Linked DNA regions of Homo sapiens: all the other regions are linked to region 4. Evidence: fine-mapped expression QTL. A gene starts in region 4. Each other region holds a variant in brackets. All regions are shown on one strand. Distances are between the middles of the regions.

What was found. PIP is the estimated chance that this variant, and not a neighbour inherited with it, causes the effect.
Region 1: its variant is fine-mapped to the expression of LGALS3 in whole blood (INTERVAL, PIP 0.99).
Region 2: its variant is fine-mapped to the expression of LGALS3 in tibial nerve (GTEx, PIP 0.99).
Region 3: its variant is fine-mapped to the expression of LGALS3 in tibial nerve (GTEx, PIP 0.99).

What each region holds. Positions count from the first base shown.
Region 1 is chr14:55,445,592-55,453,696 of GRCh38, reverse strand. No RefSeq gene overlaps it. Among named protein-coding and RNA genes, the nearest start is that of TBPL2, 9.0 kb to the right of the region's middle. RefSeq lists enhancers at 4,813-6,012, 5,777-6,277, 7,352-7,441. The variant G/C (reference allele first, on the strand shown) is at 3,913.
Region 2 is chr14:54,770,532-54,778,636 of GRCh38, reverse strand. SAMD4A (sterile alpha motif domain containing 4A) reads right to left here. Exons shown (of 13, transcript NM_015589.6): 10 at 3,502-3,703; 11 at 2,097-2,223. Among named protein-coding and RNA genes, the nearest start is that of SAMD4A-AS1, 87 kb to the right of the region's middle. RefSeq lists enhancers at 4,311-4,360, 4,234-5,162, 4,446-5,645. The variant C/T (reference allele first, on the strand shown) is at 3,670.
Region 3 is chr14:55,046,342-55,054,446 of GRCh38, reverse strand. SOCS4 (suppressor of cytokine signaling 4) reads right to left here. Exons shown (of 3, transcript NM_199421.2): 3 at 4,958-8,105. MAPK1IP1L (mitogen-activated protein kinase 1 interacting protein 1 like) reads right to left here and starts at 2,800. Exons shown (of 4, transcript NM_144578.4): 1 at 2,644-2,800. RefSeq lists silencers at 2,230-2,389, 2,740-2,979 and enhancers at 3,010-3,209, 2,749-3,438. The variant G/A (reference allele first, on the strand shown) is at 4,760.
Region 4 is chr14:55,125,070-55,133,174 of GRCh38, reverse strand. LGALS3 (galectin 3) reads right to left here and starts at 3,923. Exons shown (of 6, transcript NM_002306.4): 1 at 3,875-3,923. It overlaps LOC124903319, which reads right to left. Exons shown (of 3, transcript XM_047432036.1): 3 at 7,708-8,105. The coding sequence ends at 8,071. RefSeq lists an enhancer at 3,088-3,277 and a silencer at 3,628-4,227.

The DNA.
Region 1 (8,105 bases), 320 kb before region 4:
TCGAAGTCTTTTTTTTTCCCCAAGACCAATGTAAAGATCAAGGCTATATAAGAGGACGCTTTTTTTTCTTTTCTTGAGACAGAGTCCCCCTCCGTCATCCAGGCTGGAATGCAGTGGTGCAATCTCGGCTCACTGCAGCCTCCACCTCCTGGGTTCAAGTGATTCTCCAGCCTCGGCCTCCTGAGTAGCTGGGATTATGGGTGCCCACCACCACACCCAGTTAATTTTGCATTTTTAGTAGAGATAGAGTTTCACCATCTTGGCCAGGCTAGTCTCGAATTCCTGACCTCAGGTGATCCTCCCACCTCAGCTTCCCAAAGTGCTGGGATTACAGGCATGAGCCGCCGCACCTGGCCCCATTTTATTCGCTCCTTCCAATACAAGCAAACCTAGGGATACAACCAGAAAACTGCCACGTGAGGCTAAAATATGCTCTTGCTCCTTCAGAAAACAGCACAAGTTCATCAGCCCAGAAAGTTCTCAAACATTCTCAGGACAAGGGACACTGAGTCCAAAGCCTATACTTTTAGCCACAGCACTATTCTGCCTCCCAGTATACAGTCCTAGTATGGTACTTTTCAGCAGAAATCCCATATGTCTTCCAATATTCTTTAAGACAGTACTCTTGAGGCTAAAATATTCTAAACAAAGAGCTGAGTTTCCAACAAAAAGTGCTTTAGAAAACTGAGTTGCACAGAGAATGGGGTGCATAGAAATCTGGGGCATGCACAGCCAAATAACTTGGGTCTGTAAACATTTATCAGATTATTTTAAAGTGATTTTGCAACATTTCCTCATCAAATGCCTTACAGTTCTGGAAAAGGGCAGATATAAGAATTCCTTTATCACTTGGTCAGGTTTACAGATGGAGACACCAAAGCAATGAGAGTTTTAAGAGGCGCTCAGAAAGTCAGTAATCTCAGCACTTTAGGAGGCTGAGGTGGGAGATCATTGAGCCCAGAGTTTGAAACCAACCTGGGCAGCAAAATGAGACTCTATCTCTACAAAAAATTAAAAAATTAAAAATTAAAAAGTCAATAGCAGGGCTAAAGAGAAATCTAGATTCCTGATCTTGAAGCACATGGTTAAATCGAAAAATCATATCTCCATGGGCATCAAGGAGATAGAAATGGGGATGGAAAAAAGGCACTGTCCTTTCTCTTAAAAGTAATATGCACTTTTATAAAATACTCTTTTTGTAAGAAGTAAAATATAAATGTTCATTGTAGAAAATTTGGACAATACCAAAAGTTCAAAGAAGAAATGAAACCCACCAATAAGCTCGGTACCCAGAAATATCCCCTGTGAATGTTGGTATATTTCCATCCAGGAGTTTATGTGCTGTTATCATTTAGAGACAGACAGCCCTTCCATTCTACTCCATTTTCTGAGAGCAGGAATCTGAAAGGTAGATCTCAATCAATAATTGATGCCCCCACTGCATGCCCAGCACTATGCCAGGCACCATGGGGTCAGAAGGAAGACTGCACTCCTCACTCTAAGAGGCTACAGTCAGTTAAAGAGATAATACACAGACCCAGAATCAGGGAGCTGGCAAGAGCATCATATGAGCAAACTGGCTGCAGGAATTCAGAAAAGGAAAGCTGGCTGGGAGAGGCTTAATGGAGGAAATGATCTGGAGCGGAGGTATGAACAACGTTTAGACTCAGGATTGCAGAAAGAAGGAGAAATGCACTCTGGGGTTGAGCAGGTGGAAGATGGGACAAAAACAGCATGGACCAAGGACAGTTGGCTTGGTTCCTAAGGATATTGGCCTGGGTTTAGAGATTAGAGGGTGTGAACAGAGGCCCTAACATCACAGGTTTTACAGGCAGTGCTACCCACAGTTACTGTACCAAAGTCATTTCTTTTCCAAGACCAATGCAGAGATCAAGGCTATATACGAGGATCCATTTTATTCACTCTTTCCAATTCAACCAAACCTAGGCATGCAACCAGAAAACTTCCACGTGAGGCTAAAACATGCTCTTGTTCCTTCAGAAAACAGCACAAGTTCATCAGCCTGGAAAGTTCTCAAACATTCTCAAAGCTGATGTCCAGGAAGTGCTAGGTCAGGGCATGTGCTATAGGAGGGACCACAGGGGAAATGATCGTACAAAATCATGGCACAAAGTCAAAACCCAGCATGCACCAGCCAAATCCTGCACATATGCCAAAAACTGAATTCTGCCACCTTAGTAACACTGAAAAAAAATATATCCTGGGTAAGAGGTGGTGTGATATCTGAGAAAATCCCAAGGTTGTATCTTGGCAGCTCTATTCCCGGTGTGACCTTGTGCAGTGACTTAATTGCTTTGCCCTTCAATTTCCTCATCTGTAAAATGAGGATAATAGCACCTGCCTCATACTTCTGATGTAAAGATTAAATGAAGTAATGTATACAAAGCACCTTACACCACATCTGGCCATTGAGTAAGCCCTGGGTAAACACTGGTTCCTCTTCTTTTCTTCCCACTAGTCTAATATTAGAAAGCCAGATCAAAAGGGTCAGTGTGATTTGGGGAAACTAAAAAACAGAATATGATGCTAATAAGGCTTGAAGCCTCAGACCACATTCAAGGTCTCCAGGGCATTGGTAATGTCCAACTTCTTTACATGGCTCTAAGGTTCACATCTGTCTGAGATGTCACAGCTTGATCAAGGCCTCCTCTATACCATATTCAGCATAAAGTGTTTTGAGACAGGATCTATAATAGGATGCTGGAGTGAGGCCAGCATAGTTGCCCTGAAACCCTGCCTCCTGCCCCCAGCTCAGGTACCAAAGGAAGGCGACATGGGGTATTGAAACAATTTCCAAAGGTTTAGCTCACATAAGCGGAATAGAGACAGAGAAGGGAAAGTCCTCAACCTAGAACACAGATTAATTACCAGGGAGCCAGAAAAAGCTAATAATCCTAGTTGACAGGCAGCCAAATGACTTGGGGTAGCTCATTTAGAGTGTGGGTGTTATGCAGCCCAGAAGACAAACACGTGTAAACAACAGCAGGTAAAACATGAACCAACCTACTTAGCAAGTTAGATCAAGAATCTATTGATTGCCAAGTCTCTTTGAGTCCTGCAACACACTTCCTCTCTGTCCCTTCTGTTAAAGCAAACTAAATATGGCCCAAGAAGGACCCCATACTTCTATATTTCAGTCCCTGTGGACGAACTGTAACCTAGCTTAATAGGCAGACAAGATTGAGAACCTAATTTAGTAGTATGTGCCTGTAACAATAGCTGAGTCTTGGCCAATCCCAGCAGCCATGCTTCAACCACTCATAGACTGCTGAGTGTTCAAACTGTGTTCAAAGAAGGCAAATGCCAACCTGTAACCAATCCAACTGTTTCTGTACCTCACTTCAGATTTCTGCATGTCACTTCCCTTTTTTGTGTCTATAAATTTGTTCTGACCACCAGACATCCCTGGAGTCTCTCTGAATCTGCTGATTCTGGGGGCTGCCCAATTCACGAATCGTTCATTGCTCAATTAAACTCCTTGAAATTCAATTCAGCTGAAGTTTTTCTTTTAACACTTCATTCCACTGTCCCTGCCCTAGTTCAGGCCCATATTACCTCCTGTTAGCTCAGGGACACCTTCATTTTCTGAATACACAACTCAACAAGTTCTTCACTGATCATCAAATAAAATCTACATTTCCTAACCTGACATTCAAAACCCTCCATAATATGATCCACATCTTAAACAACACATTCCATTTCAGGATCCTTATGCTTCAGACAAACCAAAGCCAACAAACCTAAGCCTTTGTATTTTTCCACCTCAGTGTCTTTGCTTGAGCTGTTGTTTCACAGCCATTCTCACGTATTCTTTGTGTTAGTTACCTAGGGCTGCTGTAACAAATTACCACATCCCGGGTGGCTTAAAACAACAGAAATGTATTCTTACAA[G/C]TCCAAGATCCAGATGTCAGCAGGGCTAGTTCCATCTGGCAGCTCTGAGGGGCAATCCGCTCCATACCTCTCTCTTAGCTGCTGCTGGCTGCTGGCAGCCCTTGTCATTCCTTGGCTTGGGGCTGCCAATCTCTGCCTGTCTTCACATGTGTGGCCTTCTTCTCTCTGTGTCTCAGTGTCTCAAATCTCCCTCTGCCTTTGTCATATAAGGACACCTGTCATTGGATTTAGGGCCCATCCTAAATCCTGGGTGGTCTTATCTTGAGAGCCTTAATTACATCTACAAAGTCCCTTTTCTAAGGTCACAACCACAGGTTCCGAGTGGATATGTCTTTCGGGAGGCCACAATTTAACCCGTATACCCTTTAAGACCTTGGTCTCTTGCTGCCTCCTTTATGAAATATGCCTTGATGTCTAGCCCCAGGAAGGAATTTCTCCCTCCTATGAACTGCCAAGAAACTCAACTGAATTTGACTTTGTGATATTGTGTTTGTATGAACAGCTTATCTTTGAGTGAGTTGCCTAACTTCTGTAGGCCTCAATTCCTCATCTTTGAAACAGAGATGATTATTACATTTATTTTTAGCATTATTTTGGGTTTTGGTTTTTTTTGTTTTTGTTTTTTGAGATGGGGTCTCTCTCTCTGTTGCCCAGGCTGGGAGTGCAGTGGTGTGATCTCAGCTCACTGCAACCTCCACCTCCTGAGTACAGGCAATTCTCCTGCCTCAGCCTCCCAAGTAGCTGGGATTACAGGCATGTACTACCATGCCAGGCTAATTTTTGTATTTTTAGTAGACACAGGGTTTCACTATGTTGGCCAAGCTGGTCTTGAACTCCTGACCTCAGGTGATCGGCCCACCTCGGCCTCTCAATGTTCTGGGATTACAGGCGTGAGCCACTGTGCCCAGCCTATAGCATTATTTTGATAAAAAGAAGTTTTAACGGACTTAGAACACTAGCCAGACATAGCAAATCATCCATATGTGCTATTATTATCCTTATCTTTATTATCATATATTGTCCCTACTATATTGTAAGTTCCTTAAAGATAGTCATCTTTGCAGCCTTCATGGATTCTAAAAAGTATCTCGCACAGAATCATGGACGAGCGAACATATCAGGGAGAAGGAGGGAATGACAGCTAAGTCATCTTGAGATAGTCAATACAGGGACATGTTTGGAAATGTCGTGAAGAGTGACTCCTCTATGCAACATTCAACCAGCAGGAAAGTACTCAGGTCTTCCCCGAAGTGAAAAGTCTTGGTCAAAACTCCCTGCCAACAGTTTTCCCTTTGATTTACAAGCAGGACAACTTGGAGAGTTGCCAGTCTGGTGTTTCCAAGTACAGCATATCCAAAGAATTCCTTTCATAAACAGCATCATTTGCTGATTTGTCATCATGGTAATTATATTTTATTATTCCCACTGTACACTGTACCTCTTAGCACTGATGTGGTTCTGAAATAGAAGTGAAAAAAAGGGGATAGGGGAGGGGCTGACTCCCAGGCTTAAGGGAAGAGTGACTCAGTGGCCCTAGGGAGCCTCTTCTCAGGAACTGGGTAGGTGTGCTGACTCACTTCTGCCTCCGGCCTCCTCCCAAAGGTTGCTGCTTCTCCAGGACCTCACAGGAGCTGTGGAAGCCTTTAGTGGTGGCTCTGGTAATTCTCTACACACACCATAATCTTCCCCTACATAATCCCATGAGCTATTTTATAAAGCTGCCTTCTAGAAGGCCAGTGCTCTAGATACGTGGTTCAGACCGAAGTCTTCTAGAAGATTTTTAATTTTTATGGGTACCTAGTAGATGTATATAGAAGATTTTCATTGTTAGTACAAGTACAAACACATACAAAAATCCATTCCTAGTCAGGTGCACACAAAGTGGAGTTCAGGCCAGGCATGGCACTTTGGGAGGCCGAGGCAGGCGGATCACCTGAGTTCAGGCGTTCGAGACCAGCCTGACCAAAGTGGTGAAACCCCGTCTCTACTAAAAATACAAACAAATTAGCTGGGTGTGGTGGTGTGCACCTATAATCCCAGCTACTCAGGAGGCTGAGGCAGGAGAATTGCTTGAACCCAGCAGGCAAAGGTTGCAGTGAGCCAAGATCGTGCCACTCCACTCCAGCCTGGGCGACAGAGTGAGGCCCTGTCTCAAAAAAAAAAAAAAAAAAGTGGAGTTCAGAGCAGACAGAAGCTGAAATCTTCATCCATATTTTCCCAAGCAAATACGGTAAAACCTAATCTCCCTGTTTTGCTGTGCGTGGCAGGAGACAGGTAGCTACTGTCTGGGATCAGACATCCCTGATGTGCTCAGCGTGGAAAATGGTAAAGCAACTCTCTCCTGCCCAGAATCAGTGCTGATTGATTGGTTCTGTTTCCATGAAACAACTGCCAAAACGATGCTTATAAATAACACTTCCCAGTTATAATATGCTTTCTAAAAGAATGCATTATTTATTGTAGAAACGCTGTGATGGAATATGTTCACACAGAAAGAAAATAATAGGGATCAGTCAAGGGAGAAAAAGAAACTTGTGAAATTTTAATTCTTGTCTTTAATATTACGTGAAATTAAGCCATTTTCCTGAGAAACTTTAAACACAGCAAGTCTTCTTTATGGCCAGTGTATAGCACTGCCTGAGAAGGAAAGCTGCACCATTATGATTCAAGATTTTCAGTGGACTGGGGTTGGTGAGCAAAGACTATGGAGATCAAGGTTATCTGTGTTGTGCTTCAGCAGCTCCTGACTAAGCCATTACACAGGCTCCTTCCCAGATGCTGAAGTTCATGCTCCACCTCCACCAAAAAGGGGGAGGAAGAATTACTGTGGGTTTTTATTTCAAACGATTACTGAAAGGACAAGAATTCATTGAATTTTGATCTAGAAAAGGCCTCTGTGCAGTGCTCAAATCCACCTCCCTATTCTTGTGTATAAAATCACTGTCTGGAAACTGACAGCTCCATGTAGAGATCAATCACACCCAATGTCCATGGCTTCTAAAAGAAAGAGAAGGCTGCATTTAGCAAATATTGCCACCATTAAAAAAAAGTTCTCTCCCAACATGGCTTCTAGAAACCTAATCTCATTTATGCAAATTCTTTTCCGTTTTTTCCTGGGCAGCGAAATTGCCCCTCACATTTAACAACCATCAAGATAGTGTGAATGTGGATTACTCTACAAGCACTTTCCGTTTAGCTCCTATAAATAGGACCTCCTTGTATAAAATAGCACATATATTCACATTGACTGATACAGTAACTAATCTTATTTATTTTTGGAAGTACCCTCTGGTCTTCTGCCATGGAGAAGTAGCTACCCTTTTTTTCTTTAACATTTAGGGAATGCATGCTCCCCCCCCTTTTTTTTTTCCTCTCTCCCCTCAAAGCTGTTTGTTTTCTCCCCAAACCAGAAGGTATTCCCCTCATGGAGATGAAAGTGCGCCCCCTAGTGAACAATGTTTCTCAACATCCCTCCAACACTGAATTTCCATCTTCATTATTCTTGCCAGAGAATCCCAGGCCCCAGTGGTGACGTGACTGCATTTGAGAGGTTGAGGTTCAGTGCCCAGGGCTTAGGAGCTTTTCAAGGGACAGTAAAATTGTTTGAGAGCTAAGAAAGTCTGTTGACTCCAAACATTTTTTTCTATTCCAAAACTGAAATTAGTGAATTTGATTAAATGTCTATAAAATATCAACTAATCATAAGCAATTCAACTCTTAAATTGTTACATATAAATTATATTTAATGTAGAATGTAGGTTCATTTTTAAATTGTCTATGAAGAGGCCAGGCATTGTGGCTCACGCCTATAATCCCAGCACTTTGGGAGGCCAAGGTTGGGGGGGGATTGCTTGAGCCCAGAAGTTCAAGACTAGCCAGGGCAACATAGCAAGACCCTCAGCTCTACAAAAATTTTTGTTTTAATTTCCAGCTAATTTTTTAAAATTTTGTGTAGAGATGGGAGTTTTCACCTGTAGACAGGTGTGTGGTACACACCTGCAGTCATAACTAATACTTAGGAGGCTGAGGTGGGAGGATTACTTGAGCCTGGGAGGTTGAGGCTGCAGTGAGCCATGACCACACCACTGCACTCCAGCCTGGAGTGTCTCAAATATATATTATATGTATATATGTGTGTGTATATATATATATATATATATATATATATATATATATATTTTTTTTTTTTTTTC
Region 2 (8,105 bases), 350 kb after region 4:
GAGAGATTTTAAAAAAAACACTCAAAGCGTTCCAGAGTTTTAAGTCCAGTGTGCGAAGCATATTATTTAGAGACTTGCAGGTAACTACAGACTGCTAAAAGGGGTTGTGCCTGTGGGCTAGGAAGGGGAGGGGAGAGAGACAGTCACTTTTTGCTCACAGCACTTCTGTATTATTTGATTCTTTAACCACAGGAACAAGAGGGTTTGCATGAAGAGTGAAAATGATATTAGGTTCATAGTTGCCCTGAGCACAAGCCAGCCACTTGGCATTGCTGTGAGATAGTGGAGGGGAAACAAAGGTATAGGTGGAAGATTCTATCAACAAACCCGAAGCGCTCCGGGACAACCCAGCTTTTAGAAAGGGGACTGTCTGGACCTAGTCTTCCCAGTTAAGATGGAGAAAGCTCAGGGAAGATTCAGTATGAACAAAGAGGAAGGCTGAGAACTGGCAAAAGAGTGGCAGGAAGGGAAAAAATCAAGAAGGCCTTGAGAAGGTATACAGAATTGAAGACAGTGGTCACTCTGCTGGTGAGACTGAGGCCAGGGTGAAAGACCCATTCAAGGTGACAGATCTCCTTGTGCGCAGGACCTCTTCAAATCTTGTCCAGATTCTTTTTTATTGGGAATGGATTATACATAATTCTGCGTGAAAACAGAGGATGGGATGAAAGGACCCTGGGATAAAGCCTTCAGAACCCCCAAATTTTATCATGTTTCTTCCCAGGAAGAAAAATAGCTAAGCATATAGAAATATGTGTAATTATATTGTTATATTTTGGTGCATAAATATAGAGAAAAGGAGCTTTAAAACAAAAGTGAGCAGAGTTTTGGAAGTCAAGAAGCAATGTGAGCAGGCCTCTGCACTGGGTAGCTGTCGCTCCCCTCCCTGACATGCCGTTCCCAGCAGTGTGTCCTCCAGCGTCCTCCTCCTCCCTGACCTCCCAATTCCAGCCTACCCCCCCACCCCATCATCCTGCACCCTCCTGCCTGACTTCTACTCGGAATCCCCCATGTGGAGGAATCCCCCCAGGGAGAGTGGCCAGAGTCCAAGCTCCTCAGCTTTGGATTCAAAGTCCCCCACCATCGGCCACGACCTTTACAGCTCCCTGGGTCCACTTTCTGCTACCTCAGCCAGACCCTTTGGCCCAGCCACGGCTTCCGGGCCATGCTGTGGTATTCTGGACCTTTGCAGTCTTGCTCCTGGGTTCCTTCTGCCTGTAACTCTGCCTTCCCTCTCTCCACCCTCTGCTGTGCCCTGAAGCTCAGCTCCAACTCCAGGAAGCTTCCTTGCCTATTCCAGGCCACAGTAACACTTCTCTTCTTTAAACTCCTACAGATAGGACTTACTGGACAGAGCGTTTCTACTGTCCAGGGCATTTTCCTACAGGTACAACACATCTCCAGTTTGCCTGCCTTGGGGCAGTGGGGGTGGGGGGGGGTCCATCCAGATAGGTGCAGTGTAATTGCCTGTGTGGCTTGTTATTACTCATGGAGTCTACAAAGTCTACAAGATCACTGCCTGCATAGAGAAAGGGTTCAAGTATTCATTAGCTGTGCATAATTCCAACCACTCTGTTTTAGGAAGCATAGTGAAAGCTGAAATTGATCTGAAGTGTGCTAAGTTGCTCTTTAACCAAGTAAAGGAAAGATGGCTGGTACAACAGTCATCACTTTGCAAGAAAAGCCCAAACCAGGGGGAAGGTCTCAGCATCAACAGTTTTCTCTTTCTCTGTCTCACTCTCACTTTCTCTTTCCACACACACACACACACACACACACACTACACATGGAGCCCTCCCACCTCCCCACCACCAAAGCCCTCTTGTGCTATCTCTGGTTTAATCAATCTAGAAATATGACTAGTATCAAAAATATCCCCATCCGATTGCAACCAACTCTGGGGCTCCACATGCTGGCTCTCAGCCAAGCCGCCGCTATTCATGCTGGCAAGGCACAGTTTAAAAAAGGAAAGGCTTCTATAAGCTCCAAAGAATGCACGGTGACAGTCGAGGCTAAGCACTTTCTGGCTGGGTTTGCTAGGGCATCTATTTTGGCCTCCCCTCTGTGTCAAGGGGACATGAAGCGCCGGGCCCTACCTGGCTGCTGGAACATCAGCATGTTCTGTGGGGAAGTGTGCACGGGCAGCGAGCGGGTCCTCTGGACTGAGCTGTGGGTGCGGCTTGGCATGCTATTGCTGCCCCCGGGGTTGGCAAACCACAGGTTCTGGTGAGAAAAGCAAAAGGGGAACTTGTTAGTTCAGCCCCACTGGGGTGGAGAGCAGAGCCGCCAGCAAGAATTTGGGAGGCAAAGATCCCAGGAGAACTCTAACTTCTAGAAAAGGGGCTTGCAGGCCAGTGCTAGCATCTGCTTATTTATAGAGAGAGGGTTTAGATTCCATTCACTGTAATTTCTCTTCACCTCCTCAGTGGTGGCCTTGCTGTAAGCCTCAGCTTCATCTGGACACCTCTTTCCCTATCTGCAGAACTCTTTTTATCGCATTTGTTGCTTTTGCTTTTTCCCTGCCACTTTTCTAGGAAATGGGGGAGTTCTATAAATGTATGCAACGAAGAGCACAAACTATTTCAGGGCTCTGATTTTTTTTTTTTTTTTTTTTTTTTTTTAAGATTCTTACAATGTACTCCAAAGCGAGGGGGAGAGAAAAGAAACTCTCAGCTGGCAATGAGCTGGCACAACTCAGCCTGTGTGTCCCAGCAGTGACGTCTTCTTGAACTGATCTGGGGGCTGGGGACAATGGTCAGAAGATGGGGCTTTCTGGTACCCTGGGTAGTGAATCCTGCCCGTCTTGCCTGAAGCCCTTTTCCTGTTTTTAAGCTGATCTGTCATCCCTTAGTTTCTCCTGAGACCCCAGAACCTCAGACCTACTTGTGTCCCTCTGATCCTAATCCCTACCCACAGAGCTTCGAGAAGCTCTGGGCACACAGGCGGAAGGCACTGGGCAGGGGTGGGGCCTGGGGCTAGAGGGGTATGAGCGACGGGCCAGAGAAGTCAGCTCTAAACTGCACAGCAAGAACCTCTGGGCAGGCTGAGAATGTGTTAACTCTCCCCCTGGCACACTCTCTCAGACTTTGTCCTGTGGATGCTCCACCAGAGCTGGGACTGAGACAAAGGAGCTTTTTGCCATGGATAAAAAGGGCAAGAAACTTCTCTAAATGCCAGGCTCTCCTGGAACCCAGATTTGGGTGGCAGAAGGTCAAGCATGGGGCAAAGAAGAAATAGGTCTTGCATTTCTTTCTAAAGGTCCTCTTGTGCAGGGTCCCCAAGGTTAAAGTGGTCCTCTGGGCATCCTAAACACAGCTATGGGGTTGCTCTGTCTGCTAGAGAACAACGCGAACAATGCTGTTACCTCTGAGGAATGGTGGCAACTGCCCCCAGCATAGTCCCCTTTGGCCTCTCTCCCCACCCTGGGGTCACCTGGGGGGACATCTGCAGCCTTGGGCCTTGAGCTTGGCCATCCTCCTCCTTCCTTGGGGCAGAACAAACCTGTCTTCCTTGTTTCATGATGGTGGGGGTAGCTGTGGTGTTGCGCTGGTTGGAGCTGACGAATCCACTGGTGCCCAAGAGGCCCAGGCGGGCGGAAGGGACGTTCCGAGAGGGGATCTGGTACTGGCGCGGGTTCCGTCTGCCCATGCCACCGCCCACAGAGCCAGC[C/T]GTCGGGAGGGAGTTGGATTGCCCAAAGCCTCGACTGTGAGAGCCAAGAGAGAAGGAAGAGAATATCAGTCGTTATTCAGCCCTTTTTAAGCCACAGGCTTCCCAAGGGATGTCGCCTTGGAGGTCTCCTCATTTTTTTTTTTTTTTTTTTTTTGAGTCAGGGTCTCACTCTGTTACCCAGGTTGGAGTGCAGTAGTGAGATCTAGGCTCACTGCAGCCTTGACCTCCTGGGCTCAGGTGATCCTCCTATCTCAGCCTCTGGAGTAGCTGGGACTACAGGCATGTGCCACCATGCCCAGCTAACTTTTTTTTTTTGGTAGAGATGGAGTCTCACTATGTCGCCCAGGCTGGTCTCAACTTTTCAGGCTCAAGCGATCTTCCCAACTCAGCCTCTTGAGTAGTTGGGACTACAGATTTTTATATTTTTGGTGGAGACAGGGTCTACCATGTTGCCCAGGCTGGTCTGGAACTCCTGAGCTCAAGTGATCCTCCTGCCTCGGCCTCTCAAAGTGCTGGGATTACAGGCGTGAGCCACTGCACCCCGCCTCTGCTCACATTTTGACAGTTATGAAGCCTACAGGGAGCTGTGTGCCAGCAAATAACTATAATTAAAACAGCAGCTAACATCTGAGAGGCGGTATCACATGGAACTTCCTGGGACTTCGACATTATTTTTCGATCCTTGCAACAACCCTATGAAGTAGGTGCTCTCTCCTTTGTAGCTGGAGAAGTAAAACAGCGCGTAATCCTTGTGCACAGGTCACACAGCCAGCAGGGGGCAGCGCTGGCACGCAGGCTCAGCAGGTTCACCAGCACTCTGCCTGCCGCCTTGCGCCTCCCTACCGCATCTTCTCCAACCCATGCTGCTGCAGATGAGGACACAGGTCTTGAACACTCACATGCTTTTGAGAGGCCACATAGCAAGAAAACAGCAGAGTCAGGGTCACAACTGGTCTGACTCCTGTCCCAGGGCTCCCTTCTTTAATCCTATCATTGTTTCTGCTCAGCCTGTCTGTGTGGCGGACTTGGAGAAGCCTGTGAGGCCCACCAGGATGTAAGCTCCATGTCTGTCCTCATCCATCCTGCATGTCCGGTGCCTGAATCAGTTTCTGCACAGTGAATGCAGTTGAATGAATGAACCAATGAGTCTCTGCCATCATGACGCATCCTCAAATGGGAGAGCTGATGCCACCTGTGGGGCGAGGGATATAAGGTCGGAGATGATGTTTGCAAGTGTTCTGGACCTAGGACACAGACTGCCTTCACTTCACAGGCCCTCCCTGCAAAGTCGGCTGCATAAGGGCCAGGGCAGGTCCATGCTTCTCCTGGGTCCGGGCAGGGAGGCTGCCAGAGCCCTTAGCATCACGTGCAGATGCCGGCGCTGCCGTTGGGTTGGGTGACCTCAGCACTGAAGAACGCATCCTCTCTGACACGCCTCAGGTCCGGGAGGTTATACAGCAGCCGGCAGGGTTTCAGGAACCAGCACATTCTTTCCAAGAAGAGTCAGCTGTAGTCATTCACGGATGTTGAAGTCAAAATGTTTTACCTCCAGTGGCCACAAGATGGAAGAGATCTGCTTTTCCAGCGACACAGGGGAGGTTTGTACCAAGCCTGTGGGGAGACTCCGGGAAGCAGGGCTGACGTAGTTTAACCAGTTGAGGGTGATAGGGGCCTGCAGAACAGTCATTTCCTGAGAAAGAGAGCTGTGCCTGTATGTAGGGGGAGGGGCATCTGAGCCAGCAGTGCAGATCTCAGAAAATGTTTCTCTTCTCCCCAGAATTCTTAAATTTCCTAAGGGGAGAAGTGGCAGGAAGGAGAATTCTGGGCTTGTGCCTTTCTACTTCCAGGCTTTGGTGGCCAAGGAAGGAGTTCTAGATTCTGGTCAGAAGCTCATCTGAATGTGGTGAGGAGGACACTCACAGGTTCTTGGTATCTTTGTCTTGGCCTTTCTTCCTTTTTTCTCCCATTTTCCCTTTTAAAAATTTCGTTTTCATTTTTACGAAGGCTTCAGATTTTTTGGTTTGAAGGAAGAACTCAGGGCCAGGAGGGGTAGAATAAGTTTCACATGATGAGACCTCCTTTGGAGGAAGGACAATCTGACTACGTGAGGTAGAGACAAGGGCCGAGTGTTTTTTTTTTTTGTTTGTTTGTTTTTAATGACGAAAACTAGTCCTTTGAGTTCTGAAGTCGGAATTTTGGCCACCTGGTAGATGATTCAGTATTCTGCTATGATTTTTCCTTATTTAGCGTGGATAGCGTTTTCTCACTTTCCTTTTTGGTTGGATTTTTAAAAAGTTATTTCATATGCAAAATACAGAGTCAATGAGTGATGCTAAAATGATTTGTGTTTCCAGGAAGGCAAGACTGAATTCTTAAGCAATATAATGTGGGAAGAGGACTCTGTTATGGGATACTTATAGTCACTGGAGAAAGGAGGGATCCAGGGACTCTTAGGACTCAGCTGTATAGGGGAGGGGAGTAGGACGTGATGAGGGGAGAATTTGGCTAGGCCATCTTTCTCTCTCCTGATGGGACCCTTCGAGGGTTATTACAAAGCCAGCTTTGCAGAGGGTTGCCACTGCTGGCAACCAGAGTGAATGCTTGGGTTACTTAAGATCGCTAGGCTTAATGAAATCATCAATGCTTTCTGGGGAGAGAACAAAGTGACAAAAGCAAGTTTTCCTTTCTCATTCTCTTGCCTTACCTTTCTAAATCTGATTTCATTACACTGAAATGTTGAAATGCATGAAAAGTCTTTGATAAAGTAACATTAATAAGAACCAATTAATTTGGGATTTGTGATAATTCAAGCAGGGGTTGGGTTGCAGTTACCTTTGTATTATTGGAGAAACAGGTCTTCAAAGCAAATTAATAGCACAAAAAGATCCCAGAGGAAATACTTATGAGTATAAAACATTTTCCAGCCTTATAGTAACATCCAGTTGAACATCCACAAGCGATTCATTCTTATCTAATCAATTAAAAGGGGTCCATTAGGACTCCAACCTGGCAAACCTTGGGTTAGCCCAATCCAAGTGTTACTAACAAACACCCTGGAGAGGTCAAGGTTCATGTCCCCTGCTCCACCTCCAGAAGGCTCTCGGATGTGGACCAATGACAACACAGGGCTGACAGAGGCCAGGGTGGGACTTTGGGAGGAGCAGCAAAGAGCCGCCCCATCTTCATCTCCAACCTCCGAATGCCTTCTTCCTCTTGGAACTTGTCTCCCAAGGGCCTGGTGTTGCAAGAGGAGTCTGGAACCTTTTCTATTCACCTGGGAAAAGTATTGCTGCTCTCAGAGAAAAGCCACTTGGGATGGGGGTAGGCCCCAGGGCAGGAGGCCAAGGAAGCAGACCTTGCCTTTCATCTGGGCCATCGGGAATCCTCAGGGCAAAGAGGTAGTCTAGTCCAACCCACAAGGGTTGGCAACCCCAGAGGGCTTGGGGCCAGGGAACTGGTCCTGAAGAGTGTCGCTTTGCCTGAACAATCTTTTCTGCTCATCATCCTGAGACCATGAGAGTTGCCTGGCTTCCATAGGGTTAAAAGCATGGAGCTGGAGCTGGTGCCAGCCTGCCTGGTTCAAATCCCCAATGCTGCTGCCTATGAACTTGTCTGTAAATGGGGTTAACAACAGCAGCTCTACCTCACATGGTTGTCATGAGGATTAAATGTATTAATATTCTTAAAGTGCTTGGATACCACTTGGCATATGTAAGTGCTAAATAAATGTTTGTTTAATAAATAACCGTTATATATGCTGGAATGTGATCACACTTCAGTGTTAAAATTAATCTTTCATGAAGTCTTTTCACAAACTTCAACTGGCCTTATCTCCCTTAAATCCAAAATAGTGATGTTTTAAGGCACGCTTACGCAAATAAATGCCCAAAATTTTAACACCACGGGCAGAGAGCTTCTATACATGCACCGAGAAATGAAATGAATTCAGACCCTTTCAGGTGCAAGTGAAGAAATTATCTGCTCATGTTTTAAAAGTGTAAAATAGAATGTTAATTTTTCAGGATGTTTACATTCTCATTCCCTTATGTCCCAACAATTCCCTATCATTGTTTAAGGCTTAACCCTTCCTCTACCCTTAATTTCTCCCACAAATTGTCACTGCAGTTCATCTTTAATATGTAATTGGATTCCTCAATTTAAAACTATATTAAGGTAATGGGTTCTAAAGTACAACCAGGCTTATTTTTAACTGCGTGCAAGAAGCTGAAGTACTATGGAAAAATCAAGAATTGTACTGCTCCACTATGAGACTGCAGACCAAAATAGACTAGCACTGGGCTCTTCACCCTGCCACCAACTATAATTAGCTTGTCTACAGCACGAAGGGGGAAAAAAATCACACTACCACTTAAGGTGCTGATTGATAGAACAACCCATTTTTATCCTTTCAGATCCCCCTTTTGTGGGTAAGCCAT
Region 3 (8,105 bases), 79 kb after region 4:
TAATGGCCGGGTGCGGCGGCTCAAGCCTGTAATCGCAGCACTTTGGGAGGCCGAGGTGGGTGGATTACTTGAGGCCAGGAATTCAAGACCAGCCTGGCCAATGGTAAAACCCTATCTCAACTAAAAATACAGAAAATTAGCTGGGCGTGGTGGAAGGCACCTGTAATCCCAGCTACTTCGCTTCGATAGGCTGAGGCAGGAGAATCGCTGGAACCTGGGAGGCGGAGCTTACAGTAAGCGACTCCGTCTCCAAAAAAAAAAAAAAAAAAGAAAATATAAATTATAAATTAGAATACATGCTAGTTTTTAGTATTGGCTCATTTATCTGCTTATGTTCCATTTTTTACATTTGGGCAACTCAAAAACGGGGGTTTTGAAATGCTCAAAAATCTGAATCTTTTTGAGTGCCACCATGCCGCTCAAAGGAAATGCTCATTAGAGCATTCTGGATTTTGGATGCTCAACTGGTGTAATGTAAAAAAAATCCAAAATCTGAAACACTTCTGGTCCCAAGCATTTGGGATAAAGGATATGCAACCTGCAATATTTCTTGGCATTTAGTTATATACTTATTGGAACATATATGCCAAACAATGTGTTGGCCTTTAGAGAAATTATAGTATTACATGGAGATTCCTGAGATGTGCTGTCTTTTGCAGTCCATAAGGACCATAAGGAAAGAGCCGGGAGTAGAGGGCGGTGAAATGGGCCCTAGGGAAAGAAGAGCAGTTAGTGTAAAAACTGGGAGAATCTCTGGGGAGGTATAAGCAGTTCAGATGGGTTAGAATATAGCGAGAAAGGGAAGGGTTGTATTAAAGTCTTAGCAGAGTGACCTTAGACGAGGGTTTGAATTATTTCACTAAAAGTCGGCTCATCTGAATGAACCCGAACTATAAAGAACAGGCCATACTATTTGTAAAAAGCACGCAGTTTAAAAAACAAAACAAATAAAAACCAGGCCAGTAATGTTGCGAGGAACTAAATGGGACTCTGTCCAATCAAGTGCCTAAAAAAATAGTGCTTGGGTGGAAAACAAATACCAAATTCTCTTTTCTTTGTATGTGGACATCTAGCTTATAGGTAAAAAAGTAAACGTTAAAGTATGATTATCTAGCTATAACTGCAGCTCTTCACTGGTTGGTTCGGCCAGAGTTGACAAGTCCAACTCTCCAAACTTGAGGCAAAGGAAGATCGGAATCGTACCCACATCATAGATTTGCTGTAAAACTTTTAATAAACAAATCTCTTAGTCGCTGCCTGGAATATAGCAAAACCTCAACAAATATTAGCTTTTATGATGCCTACTTTTAGGTCCATAAATCTTTATCTGCCCTAGTTTGGCACAAAACTTACATGGTGGCAAAATGTGACCTGAAGCTATTTATAGTTTCTATTCGCCCCCACTTAGAATGAATGTTCACATCTATTGCTGCAAATATTAATGTTGGATTATGGGGTGCCCCACTCTGCTGGGGGTGTTATCTCTCGTCTAACATGACTTTCTAAAAAGATGAAGATAAAATCCAAGTATTTTTGAATTCAAAACACACTAGCTTCAAAAGTTTCAGTTAAGAGACTGGGGATGGATTTTACCCATTCCGCCTGGAGTGAGGAAAAGAACATTCCAATATTTGCAATTCACTCCAAGTTTCTGAAGCAAACTCGCTTTGCATTGTGGGCTCAGAGATGCCAGCATGAAAAATTTCTATTCTTCCCCCAAAGAACACCAGTGAACAAAGAACTTATGAAATGTTTCTGAAGGCTACCTTTGCCTGTAATGAGGGTTCCTTTTCGAAACAGACCTTTACAACCCCCAGGTGTGTATTTCTCTAGTAGTAAAACTAAAAAAAATTCTTGCGGTCGAGTGAGCCTGGCTTCATGCTTTAACACTGGAATCTTTACCTATTAAAAGCTGTACTCTTGCTTTTCAAGGTAAAGAGGAAAACGGTCCAGCTATGCATACGCTATCGCAGGTATGTGCTCCTCAGTCCTAAAAAAGGAGATCACTGAATTCTGCCCTTCTCGTGGTTTGCCCTGGGTATTCATCTAATGTATCCGTGAGCAATTCCTCTAGTAAGTCATAACCAGAACGTTGTCACACTGCGGATTAACAAGCGCCCGAGACTCTTGTAAGAATCTTTTCAGGCCTTTCCCTTTTTATTAAAAATTAATGAATGAGTGTAATAGGGTGGGGGTAGAGGGGAAATCGGGGCCAAGGGGCGCGAGGCCGGCAGCCGTTTAGGGACGCACGAACAAAGGGAGTCCGGGATCAACCGGAGCGAACCGGCCTCCTAGCGGGTCGCGCCCGCCGGGAAGGGGTGGGGGAGGGGCCGGCCCGCGCCCGCCCCGCCCCGCAGCCAGACCTGACGTCAGGCGCCCAGAAACCCGTCGGGCGCGACGTCAGCGGCCTCCGACACCTTCTCCCTGGGGGGCGATCCCCAGGCAGCCCGCAGCGTGGAGGAAGGCGACCGATAGAAACGCTTAGTCCTGGTGCCAGGCAGGCGACCACGGCCCGAGCACTGGACGTGACTCGATGCACCTCGGTCACCGCGCCCGCTTCCCGCTTGGCCGCGCCCGCGGGCTCCGCAACCCCAGCTCCCCGATTCCCCTTCACGACTCCCACTAGTACCGAAGCAGCCTCACCCGGCAATATCCGAGACCGCAGTAGGGTCTAGAAGCGGCGATGGGTCCGAGGGACTGGGCCCTGAAGACGCGGGCGCAGCCTGACTGACGGCAGCTAGAGCAGCGGCGGCAACAGCACCAGCAGCGCGCGGCTCCTCCTGGCGCCGGAACAGGAAGCGCCGAGCGCACCGCCTCCGCCCGTTCTCCCCCTCCCCTCAGGCCGCGCCGCGTGCGCCTCCCGCAGGCCCCTGGCGGTACTGCGGCCCGCCAGGCCTAGGGGGATGGGCTCCACCTGGCGCCGGCTCCGGGCCGCTTTCCCCTGGTGGGCGGGCTAAAAGCTCCCAGAGTTTCCGGAGTTCCGAGGACTCGGAGGAAACGCCAGTGGCTGCCGATGTTCACGGCTTCCCGGCGGAAATTGCTAACTTGTCTTGAGTTGCTTGAGGGCTGATTCTGGATTCCTTTTGCTCAGCGGTTTTTACAGCTAGGCCTCGAAGGAGGCTGGGTATGGACGCGGTCTGATTTCGGCCTGACCCGAGGACTCAGATCCTCGGGCCAAAAGTGGGGAGAGGGAAAATATTAATACAGGAAAGGGAAGACGTTTGCAAATAGCTTGACAAATTGATATTTGCTTTCTTTGTAGATTTTTCCTCATCAATGCCTCTTCTCCCATGTTCTTTTTTGTTGTTTTTGAGACAGGGCCTCTGTCACACACGCTGGAGTGCAGTGGCGCGATCTCGGCTCACTGCAACCTCTGCCTGCTGGTCTCAAGCAATCCTCCCATCTTAGCCTCCGAGTAGCTGAGACTGCAGGCATGTGCCACCACATCCGGCTTATTTTTGTGTTTTTGATAGAGATGGGGTCTCACCCTGCTAGCCTCAAGCGATCTGCCCGCTTCGGCCTCCCAAAGAGCTGGTATTACAGGTGTGAGCCACCGTGCCCAGCCGCCATCTTCATTTCTGAATAAACATTACCTCCTGTGTCAGGCACAGATGACATGACCCCAGTCAAGGAACCTACTAACTAGCAATAAAGATGTCGTGATAATTATATGGTGTGCAAAATATATACATATATGCAATATACTTTTTTTTTTTTTTTGAGACGGAGTCTTGCTCTGTCGCCAGGCTGGAGTGCAGTGGCGCGGTGCGATCTCGGCTCACTGCAACCTCCGCCTCCCGGGTTCAAGCGATTCTCCTGCCTCAGCCTCCCAAGTAGCCGGAACTACAGGCGCGCGCTACCTTGCCCAGCTAATTTTTGTATTTAGAGACGAGGTTTCACCACGTTGGCCAGGATGGTCTCGATCTCTTGATCTTGTGATCCGCCCTCCTCGGCAAAGTGCTGGGATTACAGGCGTGAGCCACTGTGCCCGGCCAATATACATTTTTTAAGATATAAAAATATCCTAAAAGTATGTGGTACACTTGCATCTTGCTTTGTGTAAGGCATTAGTGAGTGAGTGGGTGGCCATTTAACCATGAACTTGTTTAAAGGAAGACATCCCTGGATGTTTTCCACAGCACACACAATTCTCACACTGAAAAAGGGGCAACAGAGGAACTTCAAATACCTAAGCCGAGAGTCTTATTTTTGGGTAAGGGCACACAGGCCTATGGAAAATTACACGACTGGTGTGGACCTAGCCTGTTCTCACTGGTGACAGTGAATCAGCAGTGCCTTGAGCCATGCTGAAACCTGAAGCAACAAGAAATCAGTAATCTGGTCAGGTTTGATTTGAAATTTGGTATCTTGCTCATCATAGGCTTTTTTGCATCAATTCAGATATTACAATATTGTACCAAAACATTGTCTTCCTTAGTCGTATAGTCAAATATTTGTCCCTAAGTGCCTCACCATACCCTAGTCCTGGCGCTGTGTACCAGTAATGGATAGCCTCCAACTTTTCCTTGCCTGCAATCAGCCAGTAGCTGAGCACGTTGGAGGGGTCTAGATCTAGGCCATTCCTGTCCCTGTGGGCTTCTCTACAGGCAACCTTTGCTTGGGAACCAAGTCCTCATCTAGCAGTCTCAAGATGCACTGAAGTCCGAAGCTCCCCTACCCAATCCTTCCTTCTAGGTGTCAGACTTTCTGTGTGGTATGAAGAATTCCCCACCTTCTGCTCCCTTCTCTATCTTTCTAG[G/A]TGTTTCACTCCAAATAAATCTCTTGCACCTCTAATCACATTTTGGCACCTGCTTCTGGAAGTCCCAAACACAAAAAAACTAAAAGGAGTGTATTATAAATTAGAAAATATGTAAGAATATGGGTTTCTCTATCTTTTTCAGATTCTAAGTTGAATGTGTGAAGTAAAGACTATGTTTTTAAAATAAAACACAAAGCCTTTGGATTTTACATAGGAAGTTTTAATTAAGTAGAAATGAAAATTTATCCAGATCAATTTATTTGAACTTACATCCAAGAAGAAACATTCAACTTAAGGATTAGAAATAAAAGTGGCAATTGTCTACTTCTTTTGTGGTAAGGAATAGATCATACAAGCCTGACTGATGAGAGTAATAGCTTTGTGAAAACTGTATATTCGAGTACATGTGAACTCATACTTGGCTTATACAGAATTTATCCAATTCTAGCAAAGTCAGCATAATTTAAATAAACCTCCTTGAGTTTTACACCATGGCTCTCAAGTCTGAAAGCTTAGATTTGATTATAACCATGGCAAAAGTGATTATCTTTATTTTCTGAAAACGTAATCAACTTTTAAAATAAGTTAAGCAAACATCAGTTTTACACAGACCATATGAAGGGTAGGAGGAAACTGCAATTGTTCCTCTAATTGCAGAGCCTAAACCATAAATTCAAATTGTACTGCTATCTCTACTGTTAAAACAAGTCAAGAAAGTCTTTTACAGTCTAAGAGAAGTGAATGTAATTATGCAGCATCCACTACAAAGATATTTTGAAAACCTATCATCATGTTAGTACTCAATGGCTGTACAGCAATTATTTTAAAGTACGCTCCCAGGGTCACCTCTTGCTGAAGAATTAACTCCAGGAAGTCGAGTTACAAGTATCACCTACATTTTATAGGAAATAAAGGCAAAGATTTAGGACTGAGTCATCTGTTCAAAATTAGAAAGTAAATAAAAAAATAGACTTTGGTTTTATTTGAAAATCCCTTTCTATTGGGTTATATCCATTAATCTACATTTCAACTTCCAAGCCAATCTATTTTAAAAAGTTACCTCCATTTTGTGTCCAATATCTTACTGTATTAGAATAGTACAGGTAGACTCTTGCACTGCTCATTTCTAGTAGGCCATTAATAAAGAAAAGAAAAACCTTTGTGCTTTCTGTTCTTTCCTTAAATTACAAATGTAAAACTGACTTTTTTCCCCCAAAGTAGAAACAGTAGTTTGCTTGACGAAAAATCTTTTATTCACTTGGGCATTACATTACCTAACATTACACAGGCTATTTTGCTTTTAAACATTGTTTTCCTTGTGTTGTCTCCAGGAATCTCTTATAATTTTGTCTATTTTCCTGTGAAATTTGCTTTACCAAAATGAATGCGTAAGCTGTTTATTGGATTCTGACAATAGCTAAAAGCGACAAGAAATATTTTAATGAAAAGTAAGCGTGAGTTAGATCTTGGCCGGGCACAGTGGCTCATGCCTGTAATCCCAGCACTTTGGGAGGCTGAGGCGGGTGGTCACCTGAGGTCAGGAGTTCGAGACCAGCCTGGCCAATGTAGTGAAACACCATCGCTACTAAAAATACAAAAATTAGCTGGGCGTGGTGGCACACGCCTGTCATCTCAGCTACTTGGGAGCTGAGGTAGGAGAATTGCTGGAACCTGGAAGGCAGAGGTTGCAGTGAACCGAGATTGCGCCATTGCACTCCAGCCTGGGCTGACAACAGCGAGACTCTGTCTCAAAAAAAAAGAGATCTCAAGGTTTTTGTTTCATAGGAAGGAAGCTCTCTATTGCGTGGATCTATAAAATGATCCAAACTTCAGAGACAGGAAGCTGATAACTGGATTTATCTTCTTAATGGCTTTGGCTCATGAATAAATGATAATGGTTTATGTGTTTTTCTTATAAAAAGAAATGGAATTTGTATACCGATAGGAGTCCTACTTGCCACATTTGTTCTACTTATTAAGGGATTTCTAATTACTGAGACATTCTTTATATTATTTATAATAAGAAGTCAAAACTTTAACTGAAAGCCATTCTTTGACCACAGTTGGCCATTAGCTGAAATTCAGGAAATAGCACAGGTTTGATCACCAAATCAATAAATCTAGCCACAGGCTGACTAAAAGCTTCCTTTAATCTTCTTCCTATTAGGTCTTCCTTTAAATTAAACCATTCCCTTCATGAATTATTTAAGTGAATGGCATGGTTATAGAAAGATCACATATAACTCTATACAAAAATGCTAAAGGAACCTTAAAAAGTCCATTCAGCATACTTCAGGAATTATACTATGAATCAAGATGCTGTAGGCTTAGAAAAAAATGGGAGTGGGAGTATGTCCTGTAAAGCTTCAGAGAAAAATAGAAAAGTCAAGTTTATTTCCTGATTAGCCCAGGATGATTCCCAAAGCGCAGTTAAGTGTCTGGTCCAGACTAGCTATTAGCGATTAAGTAGTTTCTTTTCACTGTCAAGGCTTTTCCCTGAGGTAATGCCTAAATTCCTAATTTTAATATTTGATCTTATTTCTCTTAGCTCCATCCTCTCTCACCAATAAGCTCTCCACATTTCCACCATGCTAAATGCTTTCTCAACTCTGGAATTTACACTGTTCAAATCTTCCCTTTGTTCAACAGTTATAAAATTTTAGACAAATTTATACATTCCCACATTGTTCCTCTCAAAATTTACTCATTTATATAGTGCAATCAATATATTGTTTACATTTTATATAGGTTAGTTTCTGAATACTGTATGTTCTTCCAAATGTATCCTTACAAAGACACAGAGGAAGGGGGTAACCTTTCTGAATTCCAATTCCTTAATGTTTTAAAAAAAATTATTACTCTTTTCTTTTCCCTTAAACAATTCCCTTCTCAAGTCTTTATGTATCTACTTTCCAAACTTCTTTTCACTGTAGCAAATACCAAAGGAAAAATAAAAATCATTTCAGAGTCAATGAATCTCCTCCCTGCTCTCATTTATTAGATCAACTACTTCAAGGCTACATATGTGGCAGTACTTTTTAAGTGTTAACAGCTGTTAATACCTTGAAGTTGAAAAAATAAAAAAGCCAGAGAAAACATATCACAAGCAATCAGTTTGAATTATATGAAAAGGTACTTAGATCTTGACTTTCATATAAATACTAATTTTAACACTATAAAAGACAACATAACTATATATCATTTTTCTTTATAAAACTACCCCTTAACAGAATATTTGTAAGCTAGTCATCCCTTAGGTTTTTCTGTACTGATAAAAAGTTATTTTTAAAAGAAAAATATTTAAAATAATTGTTTCACAGAAACAGAAAATCTTATCAAATTCTGA
Region 4 (8,105 bases):
AAGTACAGTCCTTTGAAAGTGTTAATTACTTCATTGTGAAATTAATTCTCTGACTTACTCATCTGTAACTACATAACATACTGAAATTGTAAACAAATTTTTTAAAAAGGATTGTGTTTTGGTCAGAAAACTAACTGGGTGATTCATTCAAGCACAAAATAATATTGAATATTGAATACAAGAATGCCATTTTGTATAGTCATTTGCTAATTATAATGACATTTTAACCAATAAAGTGTACTTTTCCAAAAATTGGGTATGCCCCGTCAACTTCCAACCATGAGATTTCTTTTTTGAAAAGCATTATAGGCCGAGTGCAGTGGCTCATGCCTGTAATCCCAGCACTTTGGGAGGCGAAGGCAGGAGGATCATGAGGTTAGGGTTTTGAGACCAGCCTGGCCAACACAGTGAAACCCCATCTCTACTAAAAATACAAAGAATTAGCCAGGTGTGGTGGTGGGCGCCTGTAATCCCAGCTACTCAGGAGGCTGAGGCAGGAGAATCGCTTGAACCCGGGAGGCAGAGGTTGCAGTGAGCCAAGATGGCACCACTGCACTCCAGCCTGGGAGACTGCGAGGCTCCATCTCAAGAAAAAGAAAAGAAAAGCATTATAACTGATGCTCTTTTGAAATCAAGATTATTAACCTCAAAACTTTCAGGAAAACAAAAAAGACATCTATTCAGATAAGTATCATCCTTACTTGCCTGAAATTTTTTTCTTTTTTCTTTTCAGATGAGTAGTTTACAGAGAGAGACATACAATCAAATGTCACAAATCTTCCCACTCTACAGACACTATAGATATGTGAACCCCACCCTGGTGTTTCCAGGATCAGAGAATTTTGAACAGTCAGAGGGGAAAAAAAAAAAACTTCAAAAAATAAACTAAAAGTAGAGAAATACTAGCTGGGTCTCCACATTTGTAAACACCTACAGTAAGCAGTTCAGTGTAGCTTCAGAATAAGGAATTTAAACATGAGTTAGAATACAGACCATTTTAATCGGCTGTTAATTGGTAGCTTTTCCCTTTAACAAAGAGTAGCTATCCGCTGCACTATGCTATTCTAGGCCCACCCAGCAATCAGTCCAGTTGTCTGGGTTCCCAGGAACACTTCTGAAATGTCTGCTCATAAAGGTCCCTGACCTGTGCGCAACCGTCACAGAAGAAGACTACTTCCTGAGCCCCTAGGCACTGCCCTACACTGCTCCTCAAGTAACACAAGAGGCAGTCTACTTCCTGTCCTTGCTGAAACACAGAGCAGGACTTGAGGAAAGCCCATTTGCCAAAGACAAATTCAGTGATGCTAAGTTGGAATAAGGGGAACTGGTCCTTTCCTAGGATTTCTTTCTCATCATAGCTCCCTGGCATCAAGGAAGGTAGAGTTACTTTCTGCTTCTCATGACTGATCTTCCCCCCTACGGAAAAGCTGAACAGTTCAAAAGAGAACACATGACACTTGGTCAATAGCGAACTGGAAGTATACAGCAAGCACAGCCTAGACTGGTTCTTAAGTTACCCACTCAGAATTTAATGAGAAGATCCAGTTCAGGCACCAGACACAAGGAGCTACCCTTGAGTGGGAGCCTGTGTCCCAAACGATCACAGGAAAGAAGAGCTATGTTTGAGATCAGTTACCACAAGTATCAAGTACATAAGTTTACAAGCCACTTGGCATTTAAGGTCAACACGAGATTCTGAAGGCATACTACATGAACAAAGGTCTTGGCTGCAGTTAAGGTTTAGAGTCTGGCTAATGAGGGTTCTATGTAAAAAGGTACCTAAATTATACATGAGACCAGCATTAGCCTCTTGACCTCACTAAGTGAAAAGTCTTTGTAAAGCACCTATGCATATTTGTAGTACAGCGAACTATCATAGTTTAAAGACCGCTTAACAGAGCGAGACACCTATTCTACTTGGACACAGCTAGTTTTCGGGGTCAATCCATCAGGCGGTACTCGTCCTCTTCTGCTTCTTACGTAACTTAGTGAGGCATCCTCCTAGCACTTCTAAGTGCTAAATATTCAAGGACCATCATCAAACTTCTCCCCAGAATCTGGACTAAGTGCTGATTTTAAACATCACCTCTAAATATTATGAATTTAGGAAGTTGCTTAAGTCCCCCAAAGATCAAGGATGGGGTATGATCATCTTTAGAATGAGAGACCCTACCCTAAGGATTGAGAGTCAATGTCTAAAAGGGAGACTATTGTTGTAGAAAAGTAAATGATCATTATTCAACTTTACCTTTTATGGAAACACACAATTTCCTAGTATGAAATGTTTATAAACTTGAGGTAGGCCAGGCGCAGTGGCCCACGCCTATAATCCCAGCACTTTAGGAGGCCGAGGCAGGCGGGTCACCTGAGGTCGGGGGTTCGAGACCAGCCTGACCAACATGGAGGGACCCCCCCCCCCCCACCACCACCACCACGAAAAATACAAAATTAGCCGGGCATGGTGGCGCATGCCTGTAATCCCAGCTACTCGGGAGGCTGAGGCAGGAGAATCGCTTGAACCCGGTAGGCAGAGGTTGCGGTGAGCCGAGATAGTGCCGTTGCACTCCAGCCTGGGCAACAAGAGCGAAACTGCGTCTCAAAAAAAAAAAAAACCTTAGGTAAACAAATCAGAACTTTGGAAGCTGACGAAAGCTTTTTCTTCTCAGGCCCTGTGCCCAAGTAGTTAATTGTATCAGTCTCATTTTCTTCAGAATTAACTGAGCCTTCTCCCATTTCTTCCCCAGAATCCTAGAGACAGCCTGAGTCACTGAGGTCCAGGTGTCCTCATTGCGCAGCAACCCAATTCCCAGAGTCACTTTACAAACATTCCGCAGTCTCTGGAACCCGCATGGCGAACTTGAAGGGTAAGGCTGAAACCTAAGTCCCAGCCTCCACCATGCGTCCCCGACTCCCTGGACCTGAACGCCTACTGCTCAGAGGGCAATCGTTTTAGTGTTTCTATTTGAGCACCCGATAATTCAGAATAAACTCTCAAACATGTTGTGAAAGCCCCCCGGTAGGGCTCTGCACGCTAGGACCAACATTTTGCCACACCCACCATTTCCTGGGCACAGACAGTCTGGGCAGGGAGGGGCATTTGATTCGGAAAAGCTTAGAGTTTGCAGTCTTTGCAAAGCCGGGTCATGCCCACTCAGGCCATGGGGCAAGCACCATTTTCTGTGGGATCAGCAACCAGACAGCGGCTGCAGCCCGGCCGCAGCTGGTCCCGGTGGAAGAACTCATTCGCGCTCCACAGCGAGATCTCCTCCAAGTCCAGCCTCAGCTGATGCTCAAAAGGGGCCGGGCCAGCCAAGCTGTGGGTCCCGGGAGGCGCCCTATGCAGTCCTGGGAAGTCCCTTCGCTCCCCCGCGGCCGTGATCTGGGGAAGGGTGACGGGGCTCCAACCCCAATTAGAGAAACTGGAGCGGCCGTCTGGTTTGCTGAGCGAGCCCCTCCGCCTCCCCTCGCAGCGGGACCTGGTGGGACTGGGGTGACCAGACTGCGGCTCGTCACCGGATGGGGCTTACTCTGGGGCCGCAGAGCGCAGGCGGCGGAGGTGCGACGGCGGCGAAGCCCACGAGGCTCCGCAGAAGGTGGCCCGTGCCGCCCCGGGGACGTGTGTGGGTCTCGTAAGGTGCTGCCAACCTTCCCCGAACGCCAGCGCCCTCGATAATCAAAGGCGACTGCCCCGGGCCCAGATCGCTGCCCGCCGCCCCGCTCCTGGAGGGCAGAGCACAGGCTGTGGGGCTCTCCGCGCGCGCCCCGGCCCGGTCCCGGGGAGCCGAACCCTCTCCGGACCGCGCCCCAAGCAGCGCCCGGGCGCCCTCTCCCCTGCCCGGCCGGAGCCGCGTCCCCCGCGCCCCGCGCAGCTCACCGCTCGTTGGCTGGCTCCGGACGGCTGCTGGCGAGGAGGTGCTGCGGGCGCCGGCGGGGCGGTGGCTCCGAGCCTCAAATACTCCCAGCCCCGCCCGGCCCGCCTCTCCCGAGGCGGGGCGGCGCCCCTGCCCAGCCAGTCCTCTCCCCGGACCAGGCTGGGCGAGCCCCGCGCCGGCCAGACACCCCGAGCCGCCGCCGCAGGGGCGACCAGGAAGCTCCCGACGGGGAGAGCGCGGGCACTGAGGGGCGCGACCTCCGCTGCCACCGTTAGGTTCCGTGGCGCTCCCGGGACCTGGGCTGCGGCCGCGTCTGTCCCCCGCCCTCTCCAGAATCACCTGAGTGAAGAATTCGCTGAGAGGAATTCAATTAATAGGTTGCTTTATTTGTAGAATACAAAACCAAAAATCTTTTCAATGTCTATTCCCTAGGGAACTGACTACAAATTGACTACTTATTCTAGATCAATAGGCCTAGTCTCAAAGCAATTCCCTTATAAAGCAATTAATCAGACAACTCTTTAACACATTTTACACAGGAAATTCACATTATATATATATATACCCTCCTTTTAACTTCACCTTATCTTTTTGTTGGAAGAAAGAGATAAGTATTATTATCTCATTTTTACTGTCAGGGTGCTATAGTCTGAATGTTTATATCCCGCCAAAGTTCATATGTTGAAATCCTAACCCTCACGGTGATGTATTAGGAAGTGGAGGCCTTGGGAAGTGATTAGGTCATAGGGGCAGGGTCCTTATGAATGAGATTGGTGCCCTAATAAAAGAGGCCGGAGAGAGACCCCTTGCCACTTCCACCTTGTGAAGACACAGCCAGAAGGCTCCCTCTGTGAACCAGAAAGCAGGCCCTCACCAGACATCAAATCTGCTGGCCTGGATCTTGGATTTCCCGACCTTCAGAACTGTGGGAAATAAATGTATATTGCCTATAAGCTACCCAGTTTATGATATTTTGTTACAGAAGCCCAAACAGACTAAAAGAGAAAATGATTTACTTATCCAAGCTCACTCATGTCTAGGAACAAAATCCAGAAATCCTGGCTCTTACACTTTACCTGGAAAAGCACCAGGCCAAAGAATCCTTGCAGGTTGGAACAAGGATCTCTGAGGAAAAAAAAAAAAATTAAGGGGGGTAGGGGAAGAATCTTTGCAGGGACTGGCTTATGTAAACTATGGAGAAAACCAGGTATCATCTGGTTCCTAAATAATTCCTGTAGCCCTTATAGTAACCAATTAATAACATAAAGATAAATTATTTCCTGCAGTTTTTCAACTTAGGGAAATGTTCCTGTGAAGGACTCACTTGATGGAATTGAGAAGCTGTCTTGGCATTCTCTAGGATAAACTTGAAAGTGTCTTAGTGGTTGGCACGGTTCCTGCAACATCGTCCCCTCTAGGCTTGCACATAGAAGTCACAGTGTGGCTGGGGATTATTTATGCAAGTTTGAACTCTTATCTGAAGAGGTAGCCTGGCAACCAATTTATTTGAATGGATCACCCATAGTAAATGACTAACCTCTGGGTAGTAAAAAGGTATCACCCAAAGGAATGCCCTTGGTCTCCAGGGAAAATGCTATAAATCTTAAGACTTTGAGTCATGAGGCCTCATGGCCAGGAGTGGTACCCTTAGAGGGTTAGCCATTGGTAATAAGAAAAGTAGATAGCCAAATGAATTGCTGTGGAGGCAAGGGATGAATCACACTCTTGCCTTTTCTTCTGGTCATTTCAGAGATAGACAAAGTTCATGCCCTGGCTACTTAGGGGGCTTGCTTACACCTGATTGTATGATCAGACATGCTTTTGGCTTCCCTTCCTTACTTGTACATCCCCATGAATACTTTGGTGCCAACTTCATGCCCCATAAAGCTAACAAAAGGATCCTGCTATGATCAGGGTGTGCCTGGGAATTTATAATTTGTACACATGCAATAAACGGCTCTTTATTACCCAATCCAAAGTCACATCCCTTTTCTAAGATAAGCGTAAAAAGGAACCCAATAAAATCAATTAAGATATCATTGAGTAACTTCTATGTACAGCTCACTGTGTTATTTGAAATAGGGACAAGGCAAGTGTTAGCCCTCAAACAAAAAGGCTGTCTGGTTTCTACGGATGCAGAGATTGTAAGCCGCTGATAAAAGCAAGGATTCTAAGAGAGGCATCTCCACAGGAGGGAAAGGAGGAAACTTGGGAAAGCAGGTGGCTGTCCAGAAGGTCAGGAGGGAAGCTGCGTGAGAACTTCAGTTAGAGCCAGAAGAGAGTAGGAGATGAAGATGAGAACAAAAAGGGAAAGTCTTTAAGGATAAGCAGAAAAGAGAAAGAAAGACAGTAATTGGAGAAGAAAGCAGAGCCGATTATTTATTTATTTATTTTATTTTTTTGAGACGGAGTTTTGCTCGGCTCACCGCAACCTCCACTCCCAGGTTCAAGTGATTCTCCTCCTGCCTCAGCCTCCCCAGTAGCTGGGATTACAGGCATGCACCACCACCCTGGCCAATTTTTAGTAGAGATGGGGTTTCTCCACGTTGGTCAGGCTAGTCTCAAACTCCCTACCTCAGGTGATCTGCCCACCTCAGCCTCCCAAAGTGCTGGGATTACAGGCGTGAGCCACTGCGCCCGGCAGCAAAGCCAGTTTTTTAAAGTCACCTTTTAAATAGGAAAATAGAACCAGAGAGAAAGGAAAAAGAGAGGAGAATAGAAGAATTATGAAAATATAAAAAGTGAGTGAACCTGGAACAAGCCAGAAAAGAGGAGAGAAATTTCCCAGAAATTAGCACTACAGTGGGCCAGATAGGGAAAGAATGTCTCACAAAAGCTGAAGTTCCTATGAAATATAAACAAAAATCTTGGTATTAAGTCGTGTAGACAGCAGAATACAGGAACAGCCAGAAAAGAGCAAAGCGGCTGCTTTCCAGTTTTCACATTTGGACCCTGGGCAGCCCAGGCAAGTTTGGCAATTCTGTGTCTACATGGTGTTAACACATCTGGGTGACAAGTGAAGAGTTGAGTCAGGCCTCAGGGCACTTGGTCTTTCTGGTGCCAACAACTGGAATCTGGGTGGCTGGCAGACTTAGGGACTGAAAGAGAGGCTGAGTGTTCTGGGGAACCATTTATGCCTTGAAGACAAAGTAATTTCCAGTTTCAGAACGAAATGACTGTGGCTGTCTGCTGTTTCTAGTCCCAGTTATCTATATGTACTTACTCATATCCAAGGCCTTTAGTGGGGGCCTAATATATGCCTCAACTATTTTGCAAAATCCACCCCTTCTAGCTTGCTGAATGAACAGGCTCACCAAAACCTGGTCAACAAATGAAATAGGGTTGGTGGCAGTAATGTGCCCAATGATGGTTTACAAGGTCTTACCACCTGGGTTGCAACTAGAGCCCCCTGGGACAGAGTGAGAGCCAGAACCTGCTTAGAAGGGAGCTAGCCCCTCCTGCCTTGGATGGGCAGGCCAACAGCATCAGGGAGAAGAGGTGTCCCAGGTGCCACCGCAGGTGCAAAACCCCTTCTCCAGCCCAACCTCAGCCCTGGCCACCTCAGCCTAACCTTCCTTGTTTGTCCTTCAAGCCTAACCCAGGCCTGTCTTCAGCACTAGCCATCACCAAACCCACATTCCCACCAGTCACTTCTGTCTATAGACAGGAAGTGGCTGCTGCCACTACTACTGCCCTTATTGCAGCCACACCCAGGGCTACGCTCTTAACCACGCTACAGCATTAACCTGCCTCTTGAGGAAGTATAAAACCAGGGAAAGGGATAGAGAGTGTGCCAGCTTGCTAAGGCTGCCATAACAAAGCACCAGGAACTGAGTAACTTAAATAACAGAAATTTATTTTCTCCCAATTCTGGAGGCCAGAAGTCCAAGATCAGATGTTGGAAGGGTGGGTTTCTTCTGAGGCCTCTCTCCTTGGCTTTTACGTCTCTCTATATCTTCACATGGTCTTTCTTATATGCCTGTCTGTGTCCTAATCTCCTCTTGTTAGAAGGACACATTCGTATTAGATTAAGACCTCATTTTAACTTAATTGCCCCCTTAAAGGCCCTATCTCCAAAAACAGTCACATTCTGACGTATCCGGGGCTCGGATGGTACTGACATAAATGTTTTTGCAAAGAGAGAGGGACACAATTCATCCCATATCAGAGAAGGGCAGGGGAGGAGCTGGCTGTCAGTTCAGCAAGTGTGGTCAGCAGAGATTTCTCCAAGGA